Linked DNA regions of Homo sapiens: all the other regions are linked to region 3. The links come from fine-mapping of genetic effects on gene expression. A gene starts in region 3. Each other region holds a variant in brackets. All regions are shown on one strand. Distances are from middle to middle.

Region 1 (5,340 bases), 260 kb after region 3:
CTCTTGTAAAATAAGTCTAATGGTAACCAATCCCCCTAGCATTTACTTGTCCGAAAAGGATTTTATTTCTCTTTCACATATGAAGCTTAGTTTGGCTGGATGTGAAATTCTTGGTTGGAATTTCTTTTCTTTATGAATATTAAATATAGGCCCCCAATTTCTTCTGGCTTGTAGCATTTCTGCTGAAAGGTCTGTTTTTAGCTTGATGGGATTCCCTTTGCAGGTGACCTGACCCTTCTCTCTAGCTGCCTTTAACATTTTGTCTTTAATTTTGACCTTGGAGAATCTGATGACTATGTGTCTTGTGGATGATCATCTTGAATAGTATCTTGCAGGGGTTCTCTGCATTTCCTGAATTTGAATGTTGGCCTCTCTGGTGCACTTGGGGACATTCTCATGGATGATATTCTCAAATATGTTTTCCAAGTTGCTTGCTTTCTCTTCCTCTATTTCAGGTATGCCAATGAATCATACATTTGGTCTCTATACATAATCCCATATTTTTCAGAAATTTTCTTCATTCTTCTTTATTATTTTTTATTTATTTTTGTCTGACTGATTTATTTCAGAGAACTTGTCTTTGAGCTCTAAAATTCTTTCTGCAGTTTTGTTGATTCTGCTGTTAATACTTGTGGTTGTATTATGAAATTCTTGAAGTGAGTTTTTCAGTTCTATCAGATCCGTTTGGTTCTTTCTTAAGATGGCCATTTCATCTTTACTGCCCTGTGTCATTTTATTGTGTTCCTTAGATTTTTTTTGGACTGGGTTTTGACTTTCTCCTGAATGTCAATGATCTTCTTTCCTATCCATAATCTGAATAATATTTATGTCTGTCATTTCAGTCACTTCAGATTGGTTAAGAACAGGGGGACTAGTGTGATTATTTGGAGGTAAGAAAACACTCTGACTCTTTGAGTTGACAGAGTTCCTGAGCTGGTTCTTTCTCATCTCTGTAGGCTGGGCTGGTGATCCTTCAATGTTTTAAGTTGCTGTCCTTTGAATGTTTTTTTTCTTTTTATCTTCTTTGATACCCTTGGGGGTTTGATTGTGGTAAAAGGTGGGTTCAGTCAACTGAGTTCATTACTGGAAGATTTTAGGGAACCAAGGCCCAGGTCAACACCTCTGGTTTGCATGTTCTAGCTTTGTGGGGCTGGTACCAGGTCCCTGCCTTTGTTCTCTGGCCCTTTGAAATTAGGAACCTGCTGCACTGGAGGAGCCAAGGTGTTCTTGGTCTACTGGCCACAACACTCCAATGAGTGGTGACAGCCAAAGTGCTTCACAGGGGGTGCCAGCAGCCATGGCAGCATGGCATAGTGCGTGTGCCTACACATATTTCTATGCATGTCTACAGGTGGATGAATAAAAGATAGACAAATAGATGGCTGCTGGCTTGTTGAAGAACAGGAGTGGAGTACTTTTGTAAAAGTTGTCAGAATAAAAATAGTCCCTTGTGTTTAAAAAAAAAACAACAAAAACTCTGACAAATAGAGCCAAGGAAGGCCATGGAGAGAAGGGTTCACATGCATAAATACTTGGTGACAAAAACTGTCACAAAAGACTGCAAAAACCACAACCTTGTACAAAGGCCATCACCACCTTACACAAAAAATACTTTTGCGAGAATATCTACCCCCAACTGCCTGTCCAAACTTGGACTGGTGTCACCCTTGTTATTGATCCTTGTAACCCAAGGAAAATTATCTCAAAACAATTATGTAATCCTCCTCATTTTTCATTTAAAAGCCTTCGTCTTCCTTTACCCCCTTGAATATGCGTATAGTTTACGTGGCACACATATTCCCATTGCAATGCTTTATTCCTGAATAGGTATAATTTTCTTTTAGAGACTCTGTCTCTGTTATTTAGGTTGACACTTTTATAAAAGTGGAAACATACTACAGATAATCATGGGTATGCTATCTTTTATATTACCTGGGCTCTACTCTGTCTTCTGGGATTTTGTTAATTGTTCTATATCAGGGTTCATACTTCCCATTTGAGCATGTGTCCTGTTCTTTTCATTGGTTCTTAGGTTGGGTTATCTCAGAAGCAGAACCTGAGACAAGAAAGTGAGTGGAAGCAGTTTATTTGGGAGAAAGTCCCAGGAAGCACTGGTAGGTGAGTGGAAAAAGTGAGGAAGGGAAGGGAAGAAAGCCAGTAAAGGGTGAGCCAGTAAAAGGTTACTTTTGTGGGCCATAGGAGCAGCTCAATCCCACCAGGGATCTCTGGGAGGCAGTGCAGAACACATATCAGAGTTACTGCAATTGAGAGTGGAGAAATTGGATATTTGTCCCACCTGTTGTCAGTCATTGGTTGAGCATTGCTGGAAGGAGGCATTAACTTCCCAGCACTTTCTGCCTGCC[C/T]CACAAGAGGCCAAATGGGCTCTGCTGATCAAAAGAACCCTCAGAGGCTGGGTGTGGTGGCTCACGCCTGTAATCCCAGCACTTTGAGGGACCAAGGCAGGCGGATCACTCGAGGTCAGGAGTTCAAGACAAGCCTGGCCAACATGGTGAAACCCCATATCTACTAAAAATACAAAAAATTAGCGGGATGTAGTAGCACGTGCCTGTAGTCCCAGCTACTTGGGAGGCTGAGGCAGGAGAATTGCTTGAATCTGGGAGGTGGAGGTTGCAGTGAACCAAGATCATGCCACCTGCACTCCAGCCTGGGTGACAGAGCGAGACTCTGTCTCAAAAACAGAACAAAACAAAACAAAACAAAACAAAACAAAGCAGAACAACTCTCAGCTATAGGTGGTTGCAGTTGGAAGCTCAAAAACCAGATATAGGAATTGTGAATGCTGAAGGGGTGTGGGCAGGGCCCCAACAGTGTTGGTATTACTCGGGGGTTTTGGATTGTTTTCCTAATTCAGTCTGGAACCCTGGAGCCTCTCATACTTTTCAGAGCATCAGAGCCATTGCTCACTTCTCTATTTATCCCTTTTCCTTCAGCATTCATTCCCATCATTTCTCAGTCAGAAGATGAGAGAGATACACATATGCACTCAGTACATATATTCTATCTTTATCTGGAGGTTTTGGTAAGAGTCCTCAAGATTTTGTTGACTGTCTTGTACTGTTTCTGGGGGCAGCAGTAAAGGTAGGAGCTGAGCCTTCCTGTGTATCTGGCTTTTCTGTTCTGTTCTAGAAGTTGGTGCTCCTCCCAAGCCCTTCCTGCCAGTTACCTCTCACAGTTTTTTAAGTTATCATATGATGATTTAAAAATGTGTCCACAAATTCTTTCACATTCTTCCTCCAAAGGGCAGAGGCTAATTCCCCTCCTCCTGAGTGTGGGCTGGACTTGATGATTCTCTTCTTTTTAATTAATTAAATTATTTATAGAGATGAGGTCTCGCTATGTTGGCCAGGTTGGTCTTGAACTCCTGGCCTCAAACAATCCTCCTGCCTTGGCCTTCCAAAATGCTAGGATTACAGGTGTGAGCCACCATGCCTGGCCTTGATGATTCTCTTCTAATGAATAAAATACAGTGTAAGTAAGGGTATGTGACTAGCAGATCAAAAGCATCCCGATTCCCCCCAGCTTACACTCTTGGATCACTGACTCTGAGGGAAGCCAACTACCCTATTGTGAAGCTACACACCAGCTCTGAAGTGAGATCCACAAGATGATTCTGTGAGCCGTCACAAGGAATGAAAGCCTCCAGACAACAGCTGCATGAGACAGTTAGAAAGAGGACCCTCTAGCACCTGTCAAGTCTCTAGATGGCAAAACCTGAGCCAGAACCACCCAGCTAAGCTTCTCCCAGGTTCTTGGCTCACAAAAGCTGTGAAAAGAAATGTTTGTTCTTTTAAGCCATTGAGTTTTGGGGTAATTTGTTAAGTGGCAGTAGATAACTATTAATAATAAAATTGTATTAGATTTTTCCATCTCCTAGTTTGGCTCTTTTTGATAAATTTAAGGCTGACTTTAAAAAATATTTTTTGCTCTCCTTTTAAAATGTGTAGTTTTTCACCATTGTAAACAAGAACTTTGATACTAACTCTTTGCCTCGAATATGGCATAATATGTTAACCTTTGCTTTTCTTTCTTTCTTTCTTTCTTTTTTTTTTGAGATGGAGTCTTGCTCTGTTACCCAGGCTGGAGTGCAGTGGTGCGATCTCGGCTCACTGCAAGCTCCGCCTCCCAGATTCATGCCATTCTCCTGCCTCAGCCTCCCGAGTAGCTGGGACTACAGGTGCCCACCACCACGCCCGGCTAATTTTTTGTATTTTTAGTAGAGACGGGGTTTCACCGTGCTAGCCAGGATGGTCTCGATCTCCTGACCTCGTGATCCACCCGCCTCGGCCTCCAAAGTGCTGGGATTACAGGTGTGAGCCACTGCGCCCGGCCTAACCTTTGCTTTTCACTTTCTTTTTTTTGAAACAGGGTCTTGCTGTGTCACCCAGGCTGGAGTGCAGTGATGCATCCTCAGTTCACTGCAACCTCCGCCTCCTGGGCTCAAGCAGTCCTCCCATTTCAGCCTCTTGAGTAGCTGGGACTTCAAGTGCACACCACCACGCCTAGCTAACTTTTGTATTTTTTTTTTTTTAATATAGAGATGGGGTTTTGCCAGGCTGGTCGTGAACTCCTGGACTCAAGCAATCGATCTGCCTTGGTCTCCCAAAGTGCTAGGATTATAGGTGACAGCTACTGCACCTGGCCATTCCTTTTTATTATACGTAGTCATTGGGGATCTGGGGCAACTTTCGTCATTTTATTTCTGTGACAACAGTGAAGAGGTAATTTATTCAGTGTGTCCTTCCCCCTCACATTTTACCTATAAGGAGAACAATGTGGAGAGGTTAATGCTCTTAATTCATAGAGACACTTACAAGTTCTAGACAAAAGAAAGCTTTAATGTAGCCTCCAAAAACCTCTTCAACTTTTGTGGGTTTTTTCCCACCTACTTCTAACAATCCTCTTGGATTCTCTGGATTCTTAATAACTTCAGTCACTGACGCCATTACTGCTCTCTCCTTCTGGTTCATACTGATTACAAGTGGCTGTTCCTCTGCATCACCAGGTTCATAACCTCAATTTTCTCTGTTCTGAATCTCTTAAGAAGTATTTTTTTCCTATAAATTTCACATTTGCATTTTATTTTTAGAACTATTGCATGAAGGACATAGAATAAAGGGCAGAATCTGATGAGTGGGGAGATTATGACCTCGTGAAGTTAAAGCAGAGTCTCTTAACCTAGAAACTAGAGAAAGCTGGTATTCCCTTTGAAGCAACTCTTGCACCTCCATATTATAATAATTTAAATCACTTTAAAATAAAAAAATTATGTTGAAATGTAAGCATGGGAGAACAGTTTCAAGACATACTTGATGATGTGAA
Region 2 (5,000 bases), 160 kb after region 3:
ATATACTTCAATAGATAATCAGAAATTCAATAAAAATCCAGTTACTACTTTTTTTCTTTTTTTTTTTTTGGTAAAGAGACAGAGTCTTGGCCAAGTGTAGTGCCTCATGCCTGTAATCCCAGCACTTTAGAAGGCCGAGGCAGGGGGGAATCACCTAAGGTCATGAGTTTGAGACTAGCCTGACCAACATGGTGAAACACTGTCTCTACTCAAAATATAAAATTAGCCAGGCGTGGTGGCACATGCCTGTAATCCCAGCTACTTGGGAGACTGAAGCAGAAGAATCGCTTGAACCTGGGAGGCAGAGGTTGCAGTGAGCCGAGATTGTGCCATTGCAATCCAGCCTGGGCAACAAAAGTGAAACTGCATCTCAAAAAAAAAAAAAAAAAGAAAGAGTCTTACTATGTCACCCAGGCTAGTCCTGAACTCCTGGCCTCAAGCAATCCTACCGCCTCAGCCTCCAGAGTAGCTGGGATTACAGGTGTGGGCCAAAGTATCTGGCAAGTTACACATTTTAACTACGTATAAATATAATAATTATGTGTATTACTCAATGTACAGAGTAGTCAAAGTATTTAAGTGATAACCAGCTTGGCCAACATGAAGAAACCCCGTCTCTACCAAAAATACAAAAATTAGCCAGGCGTGGTGGTAGGCGTCTATAGTTTCAGCTACTTGGGTGGCTGAGGCACAAGAACCGCTTGAACCCAGGAGGTGGAGGTTGCAGTGAGCCGAGATCATGCCACTACACTCCAGCCTGGGAGACACAGTGACACCCTGTCTCAAAATAAACCCCAAAAAACAAACAAAAAAACAAAATAAGTGACAAAATAGGTCTTCAGAATCCCAGGAAACGGCCTTGTTTATATTTTTAGATTTAATGTAAGTGCAATCAATAACATGCTATCTTTGAGTTTAAAAATGCAAAATGCTCTAAGTGTTAGCTATCACCTACTATAAATTCACAATTTAAATATTATATTACAAAATAACAATAAACTGGAGTACACAAGGCAATGTTTACTATATGAAGAAAAGTTACCTCTCTTTCTCAAGTTCTTCTAAATATCCAGTACTTTCTCTGCTTCCATTTACAAACCCTCTTCTTGGAAATGAACCCATAGGAACAGGACTGCACTCTCCAGAACGGCTTGATACAGATCCTTCCCGGCTTCCATAAGAACGGAGGGACATTTTTGACCGCAGTTTTACTCCAGGGAAATTACTGCTATCTAAGTTAAGCTCTAAATAAAATAGAAACAAGTTTTTATACAACAATTGCTTTAAGCAGTCTAAAATATTCTTAATGTTATATTATTTTAAAGTGAAATATTAGGTTTACATTTTAACCACAAATATACATGACTGAAAACAAAAATTATTTAGGACTTTCCCTGAAAAGTCCACTTGGGTCAGGGTAAAAATAAGGAGTGTGTTAAAGGAAAATTAGATAAAATGTACTTCCTTAGACTTCCTCTAAATAATATTTTAGAATCCAAAAGTAATTTCTCTGTCTGGCTTCAATTATTATCAAGCACTTTCTCTGTTCTGACACTGGAATTTTCAAGCAACAGAATGAGAAAGATATCCTTTTAAAACTGCTAAAAATGAATTATAATCAACTTATATATGTGAAAAGGTTAAAGTATTTCTATCCTGAATGAAGAAGACAATACTTCTTCCAATGAAACAGTAGGCTCAAGTCTATGGCATATAGAATACTAAAGCCCTATTTAGTGACTGGCAGAATAGCAACAAGCTTTACAAAGAGCCGAAAATTATTTAAGGGAGGGATTTAAAATAGTTCATTCAAAGCCAGTTAAATGTTTAACTGAAGAAATGACACACAAATACATTTTTTATTTATTTGTACTTTAACAATTACATCCTGAGGGTAAGGCTAACATACCAAGAAAACTGATACCAACACCCAAATCGAGAGAAGCTGTACTTGGATCTACACACCTAAAGATGACAATTTGAGCTTAAAAAATTATTTTAAAACACCTTTTTAAAATCTACCTTTAAGACGCTCTAATAAATCAATCTGTCCAGAAGAAGCCATAGCTTCATCTTCAATACTTCCTTGTAGTTGTTTAAGTACTTCCTGTTAAAAAGAACACAATATATTAACATGAAATTCTAAATAACTTCAAGACATGATTCTGTATTTCTTGACATTTAAGTATGCTGAGAAAAAAATTCAGATCACTCTCAAAGCACGCACCTTATATATATTACCTATTATTCATTATTAATAAATAAATCATGGCCAAATAATAATAGTGATATTTTGAGATAATGGTGATTATGGGGAGTCTCTGTGCAAGGTATTAGAAACACATTTAAGATACATTCATTATTTCAAACCTAAAAACCAACAATGCAAATTATTCTCATTTTTCAGATAAAACAAGTGAGACCCAGAGACTTGCTCAAGTTACAAAAGCTACTTATGTGTTTAGAATCCATGTCTCTTAAGCGTGCACCAACATGACCATAAAAAACACCAAATTAACACATAATCTATTTAACAACTTCAACATTCAAGCTTTTATATACCACATTTAAGTATATTCTGCTAGTATACTAATTTACAATTAGCATACATTCAAATGACTGTATGTTCACTACTTCTTGACTTTTGATGCTTTTCTTCTTTCCCATGTAATCCCTTTCTTGATCATTTTTTCTCAAAGAATGTTGGAAATTTTCATTTTCTACCAGTTTTTCTGCCATTACATTTGTGAACTTTGGCTCTTATTGCATGCTACTTAATAATAATTTATATTATTTTCCATTTACTGAGGCATTCCATTCTAGCTCCTAGCATAGTTCTTTGGCCAATCAGGTTTCCTGAATGCAAGACAAAATATTTGAACATTTGCAACTTTGTAACTAAATGGAACGTTCCCCTATAAGAAAAGTAATCTGTAAATACATTAAAAGGAAAACCTGTCAAAAAGTGAGTGACTGGAGCAAAGACGGTTTCACTGATTTATCTTGACAGTGACATTGTAAGCATTCATGGTGGCTCATGCCTGTAACCTCAACGCTTTGGGAGGCTAAGGCAGGAAGGTCACTTGAGTCCAGGAGTTTGAGACCAGCCT[G/A]AACAACATAGCGAGACTCTGTCCCTACAAAATTAAAAAAACAAACAAACAAAAACCATGAGTGGTGGCATGTGCCTGTAGTCCCAGCTACTTGGGAGGCTGAGGCAGGAGAATCACTTGAGCCCAGAAGTTTGAGGCTGCAGTGAGCCACAGTCTCACCACTGCACTCCAGCCTGGGGGACAGAGTGAGACCTCAGCTAAAAAAACAGAAACAAAGAAATCGCCCCCAAACCCCAGAATTCCTTTTAATAAATAGCCTTAGTATCTGACCTTCAAAATAATAGACTATGTTGGAGTTTGAAAGGCTTTGGTAAGTAGATGTGGGGGCATGAAGGTGACTGTATTATTTTCAAAATATTCCAGAGTGTTTTACATTTGTGGAATAGAAAACAAATTTGCTCAGTGATAACTTCCTTTACTGAATTTGAATATGCCCATCAAAATGTCTACTATAAACTTCAGGGCACCATCTCTTCCATTTAAGAACTCTCATTGGAGACTACCTGTGATTTTTCCAGGATTCCAATTCTCTTTCCATCCATTGCTACTGTTTTAGTCCTTCAATAATCCTTTTTTAATCTTATCCTTATTTCTCAGGCTTCCGGTCTCACAATTCAACAACTACCCTTGAGCAGTTAATTTCCAATGACATGTCTCGAATCCTAACTTCACTTGCAAACTTCAGACTCACTTTTCCAACCAACTGATGGATGCTTTACATCTGTATGACAGGTACCATACATCTAAATGTCCAGAACTGAACTAACATTTTGTACCAATAAAGCCTATTCTTTGCCTTGTATTCTCTCAGTTAAATGGCATTAGCCTTCTCTTTCTCCTCCAGCTCAAATCCTTAGCACCTCTTCCTTCACATTCCCAGTTATGGATTTCTGGTGATTCTACCTCTATTAGCTCTCTTACAGCTATCTCTTTCATATTCTTACTGCCACTATCTTGTTATTAACCCTACCTAAACTATGAAAATAATTTCCCAAGTGGCTCAACCTTGCACAGAGCTGTCAGAGCAGCCTTTTTAAGGCACAGCTGTGATCAGGTCTCTTTTTTTTTTTTTTTTTTGAGACGGAGTCTCGCTCTGTCGCCCAGGCTGGAGAGCAGTGGCGCAATCTCGGCTCACTGAAAGCTCCGCCTCCCAAGTTCACGCCATTCTCCTGCCTCAGCCTCCCCAGTAGCTGGGACTACAGGCTCCCGCCACCACGCCCGGCTAATTTTTTTTTTTTTTTTTTAGTATAGTAGAGACGGGGTTTCACCGTGTTAGCCAGGATGGTCTCGATCTCCTGACATCACCATCCGCCCGCGTCAGCCTCCCAAAGTGCTGGGATTACAGGCGTGAGCCACCGCGCCCGGCCGATCAGGTCTCTCTTTGTAAGATTCTTCTCCAAAGCCTACAGTAGTGTTCTCAAGCGTCAGCATGGATCAGAATCACCTGAAGACCTTGTTAAAACATAGACTGTCGATTCAGTAAGCCTGGGGTAGAGGCTGAAAATCTGCATTTTGAACAAGTTCTCAGGTGAAGCTGATGCTGAAAGCAGAATCATTAAAATGTTAACAGTGTTATTCTATGGAGACTGAAATTACAAGCAATTTCTTTTTTACTTGTTGTGTCATACTTTTTAAACAATATGTATTAGAAAAAATCCTACTTGTTTTTAGAAAAGTTACAAAGATTTAAAAGTTTAAAAATAAAAAATCCTTCGTACATCATTGGACATACATCTAATTTTTTCAAAACTAATGGTACATTAATGGTCTTTTTAAAAAGAAATAATAAAAACTTAAAATACTAAAAAAAGAAATTAAAAAGCCATATAAATTCAGATGTCCAACAATAAGTATTAAATAAACCATAGCATTTTTTAGCTGTACCTACAA
Region 3 (5,340 bases):
TCGATCTCCTGACCTCGTAATCCACCTGCCTCGGCCTCCAAAGTGCTAGGATTACAGGTGTGAGCCACCGCGCCTGGCCAAATTTCCCATTTTATAAGGACAACAGTCACACTGGATTGAGGTCCACCCTAAGGAGTTCATTTGAATTTGACTACCTCTTTGAAGACCCTATTACCAAATAAGATCACACTCTGAGGTACTGTAGGTTAGGATTCCAACATGTCTTCTTTAGGGAGGTAGAATACAATTCAACCCATAATAGCAATGTAATATAGGGGTAAGAGCCTGATTCTGAATTCTAGCTCTGCCACTTATTGTGATATGGGAACTCACTATGTCTCATTTTTTTTTTCCTTAAATGAGGATGAAACAGGTAGCATCTTCCTCATGCAGCTGTGAGGATTAAATGAACTAGTCCACGTAACACTTGGAATACTGGGTGGTACAACACATGTTAGATATTCATTCATTCATTAATTCAACAAATAGTTATTGAACAACTACTAAGTGCCAGGCACTGTTCAATGTGCTTAAAATATTGAAGCAAATAAAATAAGCAAAAATGTCTACCCTCACGGAGCTCATAATCTAGTGAGGAAAGAAAGATAATTTAAAAATAGAACATGGTCTGGCATGGTGGTGGCTCATACCTGTAATCCCAGAACTTTGGGAGGCCAAGGTGGGCAGATCACAGAGTTCAAGACTGGCCTGGGTAACATAGTGAAACCCCATCTATACTAAAAACAGAAAAAATTAGCCGGACATGGTGGCACACGGCTATGGTCCCAGCTACTTGGGAGGCTGAGGTGGGAGGATGGCTTGAGCACAGCAGGAGGTCGAGGCTGCGGTGAGCTGTGACCACGCCTCTGTACTCCAGCCTGCGTGACAGAGTGAGACAGTCTCAAAAAAAAAAAAAAAAAAGTAGAACATAATGCCAGACAGTAATAAATTCTATGGAGAAAAATCAAGCTAGAGACCACTGGGGGTTGCAATTTGAGATTAGGGGTACCATTTGAACAAATATCTGAATAATGGAAGGGGACAGTTAAATGGTTAACTGGGGAAAGATACTTTCAGATAGAGGAGGGTTTCTGGACTGTCACATTATTGACATTTGGGGCTGGATAATTCTTTGTTGTGGGGGCTGTCCTGTGTGTTACAGGATGTTTAGCAGCACCCCTAGTCTCTAACCACTAGATGCTAGTTGCACTTGCCACCTCCTGCTCTCCTTGTGTGACAATCTGTTTCACAACGAAAGTATCTCTAGACATTGCTACTCCTCCCCCCAGGAGGAAGAAGGGGAGAGGAAGTGCTCCTGGTTGAGAACCACTGAAATAGAAGAAAAGTGAACGAACGCCCAGAGGCAGGAATGGGCTTACCTTGTCTGAGGCACAGCAAGGAGGGAGGCAGTAAGGGAAGACATCAGAAAGGGGAGGGATGAACCATGTCACCTGTGACCCTGATGCCCTCCTTCAGGCAGATAGGAAGTTGCTGGAGGGTTGAGAACAAAAACATAGCACAACTTGACGCACATTTTAAAACAGATTCTACTGTCTGCCACATTGAGAATTAACTGTAGGTGAAAAGACAGAAGTAGACAGCAGGTTGTTTCACTTGTTCACTGATTTGGCTGGGTGGTGGTAGGAACAGCTGAGAAAGCTGAGCTAAGAAGCTCTGAGGAAGAAAGGAGGAAGGAGAATTAGCATAAAAGGAAAAAGCTAGGCGTGGGCAAGATAACTTTTTGCAGAAGTGGAAGGCAGTAGGGTAATTAAGTAGATTTGAAAGCACAGAGGGGTTGTGTAGGACCAAGACAGAATGTTCGGGGCCAGTTGTGGGCAGGGCATTGAATGCTCTGCCAAGGAATGGGAGCTCTAGTCTGTTAGGATAATAATACGGAGCTTCGGACAAAAATTCTGCAGCAGTGTGCAGAATAGGAGTCAACAAGAGTAATTTTAGGAGTGTCTGGAAGTCATATGGGTGAGATAAGAGGAGCCTAGGTTTAGGTGGAGGAAGAGCATGGCCAACTCATTCTGAAGGAAGCAAAAATGAGCTCCTGCCCTAAGGCTTGGACCTTAGAATCTCCGTCTTCTTCAGAGTATTTTGACTGTAGGAAGTGCAGAGTATATTGGCTCCACAGAGAGAATTTGGACACTTGCCACAGTATCAGACACCAAGACAACGCAAGCCCACCATGAAAAGATTTAATGCAGTTTTTGCTTGGAAAAGGTGTACCCCAGGGAGGATGTGTTAGATTTCTTCAAGGGTCTTTACAAGGCAACGATTGTCTGTAGGTGAGAAAAACTGCCAAGTTAAGGCAAAGAGGGAGAAAGCAGGACTGCTTCCAAAGAGTTCTTTCACGATGCTCAAACATTTCAATTTTTTAGGTCAAAAATGCCTTAGGTTTAGCACAGCAATGTAGGTGCCAAACTCATCGCAGTGAATTGCAGGCGGGAGCAACAAGGACGCCTGCCTCCTTTCTGCCTGCTTTTTGCAATAGTCCGATTTGAGAAGGGGACCCACGAGAGACACAAAATGCACGCCCCCACGCCACATCCTTTTTACCCCGCAATGGGTTAAGACTGTCAACAGGCAGGCCACCTCGCAGCGTCCGCGGAGTTGCAGGCCCGCCCCCGCCAGGGTGTGGCGCTGTCCCCCTGGCGCTGGGCGGGGGAGGAGGGGCGCGCGGCGGCCGAGGAGGGGCGCGCGGCGGCCGGGCGGGGCGAGCGGAGGCGAGTGGAGGACGCGTAGACGCGCCGCGGTCCCCGCCTGCCGCTGCTCCGCCGCAGTCGCCGCTCCAGTCTATCCGGCACTAGGAACAGCCCCGAGCGGCGAGACGGTCCCCGCCATGTCTGCGGCCATGAGGGAGAGGTTCGACCGGTTCCTGCACGAGAAGAACTGCATGACTGACCTTCTGGCCAAGCTCGAGGCCAAAACCGGCGTGAACAGGAGCTTCATCGCTCTTGGTGGGTGGCCGGGGGTCGCCGCCGCTGGTAGGGCCACGGGAGCCGCCGCTGCCCCAGCTGCTGGGGAAGGAAGCAGGGAGAGGACTCGGGAAAGGTGGAGTCGGAGACAGACGGGACAAGCAGCATATTCAGGGATCAGGCTGGCCTCCCGGAAAGCGTGGGCATCGGAGGACCCCGCGGGGGCTGCCCAGGCTGAGGGTCGCGGGGCTGGAGGGCAGCTGCGGCGCCGGGCGCTGGCAGCTGGAAGGGCCAGCGCTGACGTATGTCTGCCCCGCGGCCCGGCGCCCTATTCCTGCTGTCCTGCGCGGTGGGCGCGGACGGCGGGGCCCCTGCGGGCGGGCGCGTTGACGGAGGTACCCGGTCCTACCCGACCCTCCGTGGAGCTCCGCCCGGAGAGGGCGCCTCTCGGGTGGGCGGGGGCTGCTACTGCAGCGTGTGCGGGAGTCCGGGCCTCTCGGGACGCTCCCCGCTGAGCGCAGCTTCCCAGGCTGGAGCGCTGCCCAGCAGGCCCTGCGAGAGGGCGGAAGCGGGTGCCTGGGACCGTCCCGGGCGCCGGGGGTTGCTGCGCAAAGCGCCGGGGCCCCCTGCGGGAGGTAGGAGAGGCACAATGGTGGGGCTGCCTGGTATCCCCAGACTTCAAGGCATAGCCCAGCGGACGCGCAGGCCCAGCTTTCGTGTGGTTTGTTTTTCTCGCTCCTTTAATCGAGTCGAGAGGAAAACTCCTACAACAGGCCCAGCCTCGCGGTGTGGGCGGCGGCTGTCCCGCGTGAACGGCTCTCATGCTGCCCGACCCACTTCTCTCCTTGTGGTCCCCAGGTGTCATCGGACTGGTGGCCTTGTACCTGGTGTTCGGTTATGGAGCCTCTCTCCTCTGCAACCTGATAGGATTTGGCTACCCAGCCTACATCTCGTAAGTGACACACCCTGCAGCCGTCCCCTTCCCTTCCTCCATTCCTCCCCGCAGGGCTGCTGCAGTAGACTGCACATCCGCAATTCCCGGGAGAAAAGTGAAAGCTCGGCGGGGAGGGATGAGGTTGGACATAAGGGGTGGGGATAGTATTCACCATTTTGGAACCTTAACTTAATCCCTATCTCTTGACGATTAGCCCAGAGGTATTTTCATTAGATTATCCTGGTGACCAGTGTCCCCTCTCTTTGGCACACTAACAGGAAAGCGCTACCACTCTGTCGTCCTCCCTTTACTGGTGGGAGGATCTCAGAAGGTACAGGGAGCTGAGCACTTCTGTCTAGTAATTATTTTAATGAGTATTTCACCATATATTTATGCACCTAGAGAGTAAAACCCTATCAATTAGGTCTTCCTTAATTCATAATTACGTTAATTGAGACAGTAGGGAGAATTTTCTCATTTTCTTTTATTTTGAAAAAGCCACATGTTACAGACAAACTTGGGAAATGCTTACCCTAGTGTAAAAACAAAAACCTTTAAAAATGCTCCATGATATAGCTCCTTGGTTATATAAGTGAGTCATTTATATAATTGAGCTACTTAAAAAATGAATTTTTACGATTAGGATCTGAATTTATTACCAAAGTTGTTTTTATTCTACAATGTGTTTATTTTTTTTAATTCTACGATTTTATTTTTCCATTCGTTCAAGTAGGAATTATTCCTCTCCAGAAATGAATTTTGTTTTGCTCTACAGTTCTTCCTAAGAAAGCCAGTGGTTTTTACCTTCATTCAGTTGGTCTCTGCTACTTTCTTCAACCATAGGGATAAAAATAAAGGAAGAAAAAATTTTCACCTAGGAGGCTAAGACACAGATAACACATTATTACAGCTTGTATCTGTCACTAGTTAGGCTAGAATTTAGTCTATGACTATAAGGGAAGAAACATGTTTTAGAAGTTAGTTCTGATTTGAGCAATTAAATTGCAGTTACCTAGTAGTTGTTACTGTGTTAGTCCGGTACAGACACTTAGTCATACTCCAGAAAGTCTAGCTACATATAGCCCTGAGGCCTACCCCGGGCTCTGCTTTATGGAGGAGACTCAAGGAAAAACGGGATTGTGTGCACAGAATAAAGCATACAGACCCCCGTGAGCAAATATTCAGGCGGTCGGTGTTACATTAGTCTAATCAAGTCTGTTCATTGCATAACCAATATGATTGTATAATTGTCCAAAAGAAAGAAAAAGTATTTGAAAATGGTGGTCTTTAGTAGCATCAAAATCCATGTTGCTTAAAGTGTGACCTGTGAACACTGTCTTAGTCTGCTTGGGCTGCTATAACAAAATACCTTAGACTGGATAATTTATAAACAATAGAAATTTATTGCTCACAGTTCTGGAGGCTGGGAAATCCAGGACCAAGGCACCAGCAGATTTGGTGTCCGGTGAGGGCTTGCTCCCTGCT

The links. PIP is the estimated chance that this variant, and not a neighbour inherited with it, causes the effect.
Region 1: its variant is the best candidate, but not a certain one, in a credible set for the expression of REEP5 in lung (TOPMed, PIP 0.80).
Region 2: its variant is the best candidate, but not a certain one, in a credible set for the expression of REEP5 in whole blood (INTERVAL, PIP 0.77).

Annotation. Positions count from the first base shown.
Region 1 is chr5:112,654,973-112,660,312 of GRCh38, reverse strand. It overlaps LOC102467216 (a long non-coding RNA gene), which reads left to right. Exons shown (of 3, transcript NR_104673.1): 2 at 2,033-2,118; 3 at 3,541-3,885. Among named protein-coding and RNA genes, the nearest start is that of LINC02200, 29 kb to the right of the region's middle. The variant C/T (reference allele first, on the strand shown) is at 2,364.
Region 2 is chr5:112,763,433-112,768,432 of GRCh38, reverse strand. APC (APC regulator of Wnt signaling pathway) reads right to left here. Exons shown (of 16, transcript NM_000038.6): 3 at 2,023-2,107; 4 at 1,043-1,244. Among named protein-coding and RNA genes, the nearest start is that of APC, 28 kb to the right of the region's middle. The variant G/A (reference allele first, on the strand shown) is at 3,111.
Region 3 is chr5:112,919,696-112,925,035 of GRCh38, reverse strand. It overlaps REEP5 (receptor accessory protein 5), which reads left to right and starts at 2,809. Exons shown (of 5, transcript NM_005669.5): 1 at 2,809-2,963; 2 at 3,780-3,873. The coding sequence starts at 2,846. It overlaps LOC105379123 (a long non-coding RNA gene), which reads right to left and starts at 2,649. Exons shown (of 3, transcript XR_948675.3): 1 at 1,380-2,649. RefSeq lists an enhancer at 1,287-1,406 and silencers at 2,539-2,808, 3,169-3,618.